Homo sapiens: one gene and its partner. The protein of the gene in region 2 interacts with the protein of the main gene of each other region in a pairwise test. Each region holds a gene or a part of one and is shown on either strand. Other genes may lie near its edges. The genes, in order: LMO4 and CRNN.

What was found.
Region 1: the proteins of CRNN (region 2) and LMO4 interact in binary tests that used the Homo sapiens proteins (3 or more experiments, as listed by UniProt).

The regions. Positions count from the first base shown.
Region 1 is NC_000001.11:87,345,617-87,349,487, reverse strand, and holds the end of LMO4 (LIM domain transcription factor LMO4), read right to left. Parts: 3' UTR 565-3,871; downstream 1-564. UniProt on the Homo sapiens protein: Transcription cofactor. Plays a role in establishing motor neuron identity, in concert with MNX1, acting, at least in part, to disrupt LDB1-LHX3 complexes thereby negatively modulating interneuron genes in motor neurons.
Region 2 is NC_000001.11:152,408,532-152,411,379, forward strand, and holds the end of CRNN (cornulin), read right to left. Parts: intron 2,413-2,848; coding exon 1,063-2,412; 3' UTR 712-1,062; downstream 1-711. UniProt on the Homo sapiens protein: Promotes cell proliferation, G1/S cell cycle progression and induces expression of the cell cycle regulator CCND1. Regulates proliferation induced by pro-inflammatory cytokine response via activation of NFKB1 and PI3K/AKT signaling pathways.

The DNA of each region.
Region 1 (3,871 bases), about 65 Mb from region 2:
CAAAAATGAAAAATTAATTTAGGAAGAAACTCTAACTTAAGAAAAAACTTGCAGCTCAAACAACAGGTGAAAGCACACAAATATAGAAACTGTTTTTGAAGAAGTTGGGGATGTTAACCTTTTAGTTCAAGATGGGGGGTTGTTCCAGAGTGAAGGAAGGTGAGATGCCTCCCGTTCTCATGAGCTAATGATTGTTTCCAAACTGGTTAGAATTCAGTGCTAATTGCATTTTAAAACACCACCTCTGAAATCCTTTTCTCTCTCAGGATCTTGCATCAATGTTTCACATTTTCAATGCAACCTTTGCACTTCACCTTTCTCACTCAACAAATTCTGAATGTCAGATCTACGGGAAGAACTCAGTTCAGATCCTTCCTCTCCCCAGCAGGTTTTGATCTGGTGATGGTGATGTCAATTCCTAGGAAAGGCTGTCCTGCCCTGGTTCTGAGGGGAGAGAGACAATTAAAATCGGTACTTTGGTGACTCTACTCAGGCTTGTCCATTCTAACAGGGAGTCATTAAACAACTTTCCAGTGTCATTCAAAGAACTTATAACAGAATCAATTGATTTTCATCCTCTGCTTTATTAGTTGTGATTTAGGAAATAGAATGGCCCTGTTTACACAGCTGTAACATGTCAGGGCCTGTAGTACATTATTGGCTTGAGGCCTCCGAGTTGCCGTCCATTCTCAGCAGAATCAATCTGAACTTGAAAACATTCCCTCTAGGAAACATGCACATATCTACTAGCATAAAGCACTTCTTGCACAACTGAAAACAGTATTCACTTGAGGTAAGTTGCAAGTTCACCTTCCAAAAATCAGCCCTGACTTGTCATTGCTCTCAGCATGTTCACGATGGGAGCAGAGGGCTACAAATGCCTCTTTAACTAGGTACCCAGCATCGGCGAATGTGCTACACTTTGCTGCTAGTCAGATCTCAGACTCTGCAAGTGGGAGTAGCTGGCTGTTTAACATGCGTTCAGAGCACTGCCAATCTAAAATGGCTGCTCAGTAATACTTTAATTGCAGTTTCATGGAAACAAATTGCTATTTAACTGCAATAAGCACTTCTGTGACTTGGCTGCACTAACAATAGGTGAGTCTTAGTAACAAAGCTATAAGTAACATTAACTTGTAAATGGCCTTTTTCCAATGGCCTCTTGAAGGGGTCATAGGTGGGACAGCACCCAGGATAGAATTCCCTGGTGAAGGGTGAAGGGGTCTTTGGGGTGAAGGGTGATGGGGTTTTTGGATCTCCTCAATTTAAATACAATTAGTTAGGCTACATGGGAACTCTTCACTAGACTCCATATGTAGCTCTTGGGTTCACTGTTTATTATATGATTTATGGGCCCTAAGAAATATTTTATATAAATAGTAGTGCACATTAGAATCTTACTATATTGACATTTAAAGCCCTTTAAGAGCTTCCTTTTAGATGATTAGTTGTTTCAAATATCAGTGTTAATAAGGGCAAAAGAAAGAATTTAAATACAGGTAATATTAAGAGGATGACAATTTCACAGACTTCATTTTGGTGTGTCAGTTTTCTCGTTTTGTATTTTATAAGACACTACAGTCCGGGTTAAACTATTTCCTAATAAATCATGAAGAGCTGAAAATAGTTTCTAGTGGCAAACGATTTGGTTTGGAAAAGCTTCAGGCTCCCCTGCCTTGCGGGATGTGTAAATCTAATTAGACAGTTAGATAGGTAAAAAACATTAAACCCTTTTAGAGGACTATCTTTTTACAAAATTGTTTCATTAACAAGAGTGACAATTTGCATGATTGAGACATTTATATGTACCATAAACATAATTTTTTTTATCAGGAGTTCAGCAGGGCTCAGTAACATTTGCTTTTATTTTTAATTGCACTTGCTTGTAGGGACTGGGGGCCATCTTGCTCTATGACGTGGTTAATATTAAATAAGTCCTTTCTAAAGAACAGTGTCCATCTTGCTAACTAATAACATCACAAATGCAATGGATGAAAGGTGGAATAAACTCATAGATTTTTTTTTTTCCTAAGCAATGTTGAGATTGGGGGAGGAACTGCACACAATCGCTGCTCACATCAGAATAAACCTGAGTGTTTTTAGTAGCTTTCTATCCACACAGAGCATCCCCATTAGAGCCGGGTTTTATTGTTTGAAATGCCTCTGGTTTCAAGAAAGTGTTTTACCTAAAGCAAGACTACTACTTAAATATGTTCTATTGTATATTCATAGCTCCATTAGTCCTTCTCCAATTTAGCACATCAAAGAGAAGGCTTCATCACTTGCATGTGGATTATACTAACATGAGTGACATTTGTAATCTTATAGGTCTGCAACTTAAGAAATGCTTTTAGAAGCTCATTATTAAATACGCAGCAGTGCTTGAGGAACCAGCCATATAATAGTTTATTTAAAGTCCGTAATGACCTTAGCCCTCCACATCATTAAATGCGACAATATATTATTTACTAAAGTTATTAACCACCTCCTTTGAATTTGTACATATCAGGGACATAAGTGCTTATGCCAAAAAGAATATAGAAAATGCCTGCAATCTCATTAACCCATTTCCCCCTTTACCATCGCAGTCTAACTTCCTTCAGAAAGTTCCTTAAAGGAAAAAAAACAAATATAAGAACCAGAACTAGTTTGAAGAAATTCCCCAAGGATCTAATTCAAACAGACATCTAATTCAAACATATATATGTGATTTCTTCATATTATTTTCTTGCATTTTATTTTTATAAGGTTCTAACAAAACTATTCACCTCAACTCTATGCCTTTACAATCTCCTCTAGGAGGTTTGAAGTTCAACTGATTTTTTTTTTCCCCTGCCCTGGAATCTCTGAAAACAGGAAGTGAGCACAGAAGTTCTCAAAGGGAAGCTGACTGGTAGTTGAGATGTGCTGAGCTACACCTCTCTACATGGCTCCACGGCTATTCTCAGAGGGAGGGTCTACATCAGGCGCTTTTCTGGAACAAAATAAAATGCCATCTTAAAAAAGAAAATTTAAAATAGTAGCGTTCACACACCTGGTTTTATTAGCCTGTGATGGAAGTTGTAGTTGAAATTTGCTCACATCTAAGGAAGCTGGCAGTACAACCTCAGCCTCCAGGCCTATTTGGTTTTCCTCCTTCCAGCACTAGCTGTTATACTGCATGCTTTCCGGAGGGCAGCTCTGCGGGCAGTGCAGGCACTGTGGTGGACACTCTGCTGCCTGCAACCAGCAACTCAGTATCTCAAGACTAAGACTAAATGAAGTCAGAATCTTCCCCCAAAATACATACGGAAACGCAGTCAGTAAAGAAGTGTAGGAGCAAAACAAAATAAACACCTTACAGCCAACCACACGAGCCTAAGGGTCACCAGGAAATGGCTACTTCACCAATCAAAGATCACCATAAAAAAAGAGCTCTGGGTCCCTACAACTAAGTGAGCTTCAAAATATGTACAGGTATGACTTAGAAATTGTGACTTCCTTCAAAAGCTATAAACTCAATAAGAGAACAGGATGGTTGTGCCGTATTTTTTTTTATACATACTTTTCATCAATACCCAAGGCTTTGTTTGCTATTGAGAAAAAGAATAAACAAAATAGTGGACACTCAAGTATTTATAAACACAAAAGACTTACTGTGATATAGAAGTGTAACGAAATGCTGTTAACAGAATATTCTTGACTTATAGAAAGGACCCTGTTAGAAACTACTTTGTACCCCTGCCAATAATGGCGTGGTTAAGTAATTTGAAGAATACCTTACTGGCCCAGAGCTAAATAAATATACACTCCACCTCCCTCAACTCCTTCAAATTTAAAGTGAGCTTGTTATTCAACAACAATAAAAACTAAATTTCTTCAAAATACAGAA
Region 2 (2,848 bases):
AATTTTTATATTTTTAGTGGAGGTGGGGTTTCACCTTGTTGGCCAGGCTGGTCTTGAACTCCTGGCCTCAGGTGATCCGCCCACCTAGGCCTCCCAAAATGCAGGGATTACAGGTGTGAGCCACCACGCCCGTCCCTATAAATCTTTATTTTAAAACTGTTCTTCTGGTCACTCTTAAAATAAACCAGAATTGATAGTCTCTACCCCATAACATGGTTTATATCTGGTGGGTGAGACATCATGAGAGGTCAGAGCTGACACTGAGGGGGAGGTAGGAAGGGAAGCACAAAATTCTGGCCCCTGGCTCAGTACCTGGTAACACAAGCTTTCTCGCTCTTTCCCTACACAGCCACTGGGGGCCTTCTTCCATTTCTTGGTAATCTTAAATCAGCTTTCCTGTGTGACCTTACAGGTGAATAGCGGTTTAACGCTATAGAATTAGAGGTAGTGAAAGACCAAGAGGAATTTTGCCTATCTATCTAAATACTAATTGTCTTTTCAGGGCCATCATAAAGAAAGCGCCTTTTGTATGAAACCTTTGCTGGTCCATCTCTGCCAAGTATTAAGTATGATATATAGCAGGAATCTCATATAATATTTTCTCAACTAGTTGCTCTTCAAAGGTAGGGACTATGTCCAGTTCATCATCTCATAACTCTACAGCCTTTGGCCTGTAATATCAATAGAAGGTGGTTGAATGAGACACAGAGGCCAGTGGCTTAAGGTTTTATTGATGCATTAGGGTAGATGGGGCAATAGAGAGATGTCAGAGATAAAAATAGTCCTGAAACCCCCCACAAGATGAGGACAATTCAGTACAAAGGGGTGACTTGCTCTGAGTCTTCCTGCTCCTGAGAGGGTCTGCACCGCAAAGCAGGTAAGAAAGAAGAGTTCAGGATAGAAAGCTCCTTGCAGAAATTATCTCATTGAGAAAGACCTAAAAGGGAAGCTGCATAATGAAGAGCTGATGTCCAGGGATGCACCCACTGGATTGGCCATGCAGGACAAGCCAAACTCTCTCCAGCTGTCTTCTTCCAGTACTGGACATTGGAGTCGGGGAAGTCATGGCTTGGTGCTTCTCAAGTAGGAATACAGCTCTCTAGCTGTGATGCCTCGCTTCTCTTCTGACTGGGCTGCATCCTGGCCCTGTGCTGAGGAAACACTGGTATGCAAGTTGCCCTGGTCCAGCCTGAGGATCACTGTCTCCCTTGAGTGGTCATCAACCCATTCCTCACCAACCACTGTGGGCTGTCTGTCTCCCTGCCCTTCTGTCACACAGCGCCTTGGGTGAGTGCTGCTCCACTCCTGCCTTCCTGACTCAGTGCTTGCCCCAGTCTGGGCCTGTCCTCCCGGTACTGTCTCTCCTGCCTCAGGGTTGCTCACTTGCATCCATCTTTGACCACTGCCTGGCTGCGTCTGGGTCTGTCCCTGTTCTCTAGCCCCTCCGTGGCTTACAGTTTGGCTTCTGTCCTGCTCCACAGTCTCGGTGTGTGACCCTGCCTGTATCTGAGTGTGTCCTCCTGTCACAGCCTGGCTGGTCTGGCTCCTGCCTTGACCGTGGATCTCAGTCCCTCTGTTCTGGCCATTGGTGGACTCCTGTGTCTGGGTGCTGGTGCTTCCTGTCTGGTGGCTGCTGTCCTGCTCCACGGTCTGGGTGGGTGTCTGGGTGTGTGTCCCTGCCTGTATCTGAGCATGTCCTCCTGTCACAGCCTGGCTGGTCTGGCTCCTGCCTTGACCGTGGGTCTCAGTCCCTCTGTTCTGGTCATTGGTGGCCTCCTGTGTCTGCTTGCTGGTTCTTCCTGTCTGGTGGCTGCTGTCCTGCTCCACAGTCTGGGTGGCACCTGCCTGGGTCTGAGTTCCAGATCCAGTCACAGTCTCACCTGTCTGGTGGGCTCTGTCCTGTTCCCTGGTCTGTGGCTGTCTCTCTGGCCTCATCTCTGTTGTCTGATTCCTCTTGCCTTCTCCAGCTTTCTGGGTCTGCTCTGTCTGCCCAGAGAGTTGTATCTGCGGGCTTATTCTTTCCTGGCTCTGGGACTCAGCTTGCCTGTCATAGCTGCTGACCCACGCAGAGCCAGTGGCCTGACCCTGGGTCTGAACCCCAGGCCTGTTCTGCCCTCTGGAACCCTGCTGGCTCTGTCTGTGGCTGCTCCCCTCATAATGCTGCCCTTTCCCCGCCCTTCCCACTTCAGTGCCACTTCTCTGTCCTTCGCCCAGCTCCTGCGAGGCCCCAGAGTGGAGGCTTCCAGACTCTTGAGAGCCGCAGGCTCCCTCAGCACTCTCGCTCAGTGTCTTGAAACAGGCCTGGGCAACTTTAAACACTAAGACCAGGAATTCCTTGAATTCCACAGTCCCTGTGTGGTCTTCATCCAGCAGACGCAGGACCTCATCCACAGTTGCTGGATCGTGGGGTTTCTGAGGAGAAGATGAGGTGGAGTCAGCATCCCTCCCCTGAGGAGGACATGGGCAGGTCCCTTCCAATCTGCTGCCAGCTTCCCCTGCCTCAGACCCCACACTACACACACATACGGCTAGAGCAGCAGCAAGACTTAATTGCCTTTATTTTTTTTTAGTCCCGTCTCTCTCCCTCAAGTGTAGAGAGCATTTTTTGTTTGGTAGCCTCTATTTGGCACAATTTCTGGGCTACAGGAAAATTAGATAAAGATTTATTGAAGAGTTAATAAATTATTGAATTCACAATGCAACTGTTTGGGCTCTCAAGTTGACTGTCTGGGCTGCCCTTGGCACCTTGCCCCTGGCACTGAGGCCTTAGTCTCTTCAGCAGGCCCAGCACAAAGAGCAGCAGGTTGGGAACACAGCCCCATGGGAATTCTGTGCGCTCCTCATTGAG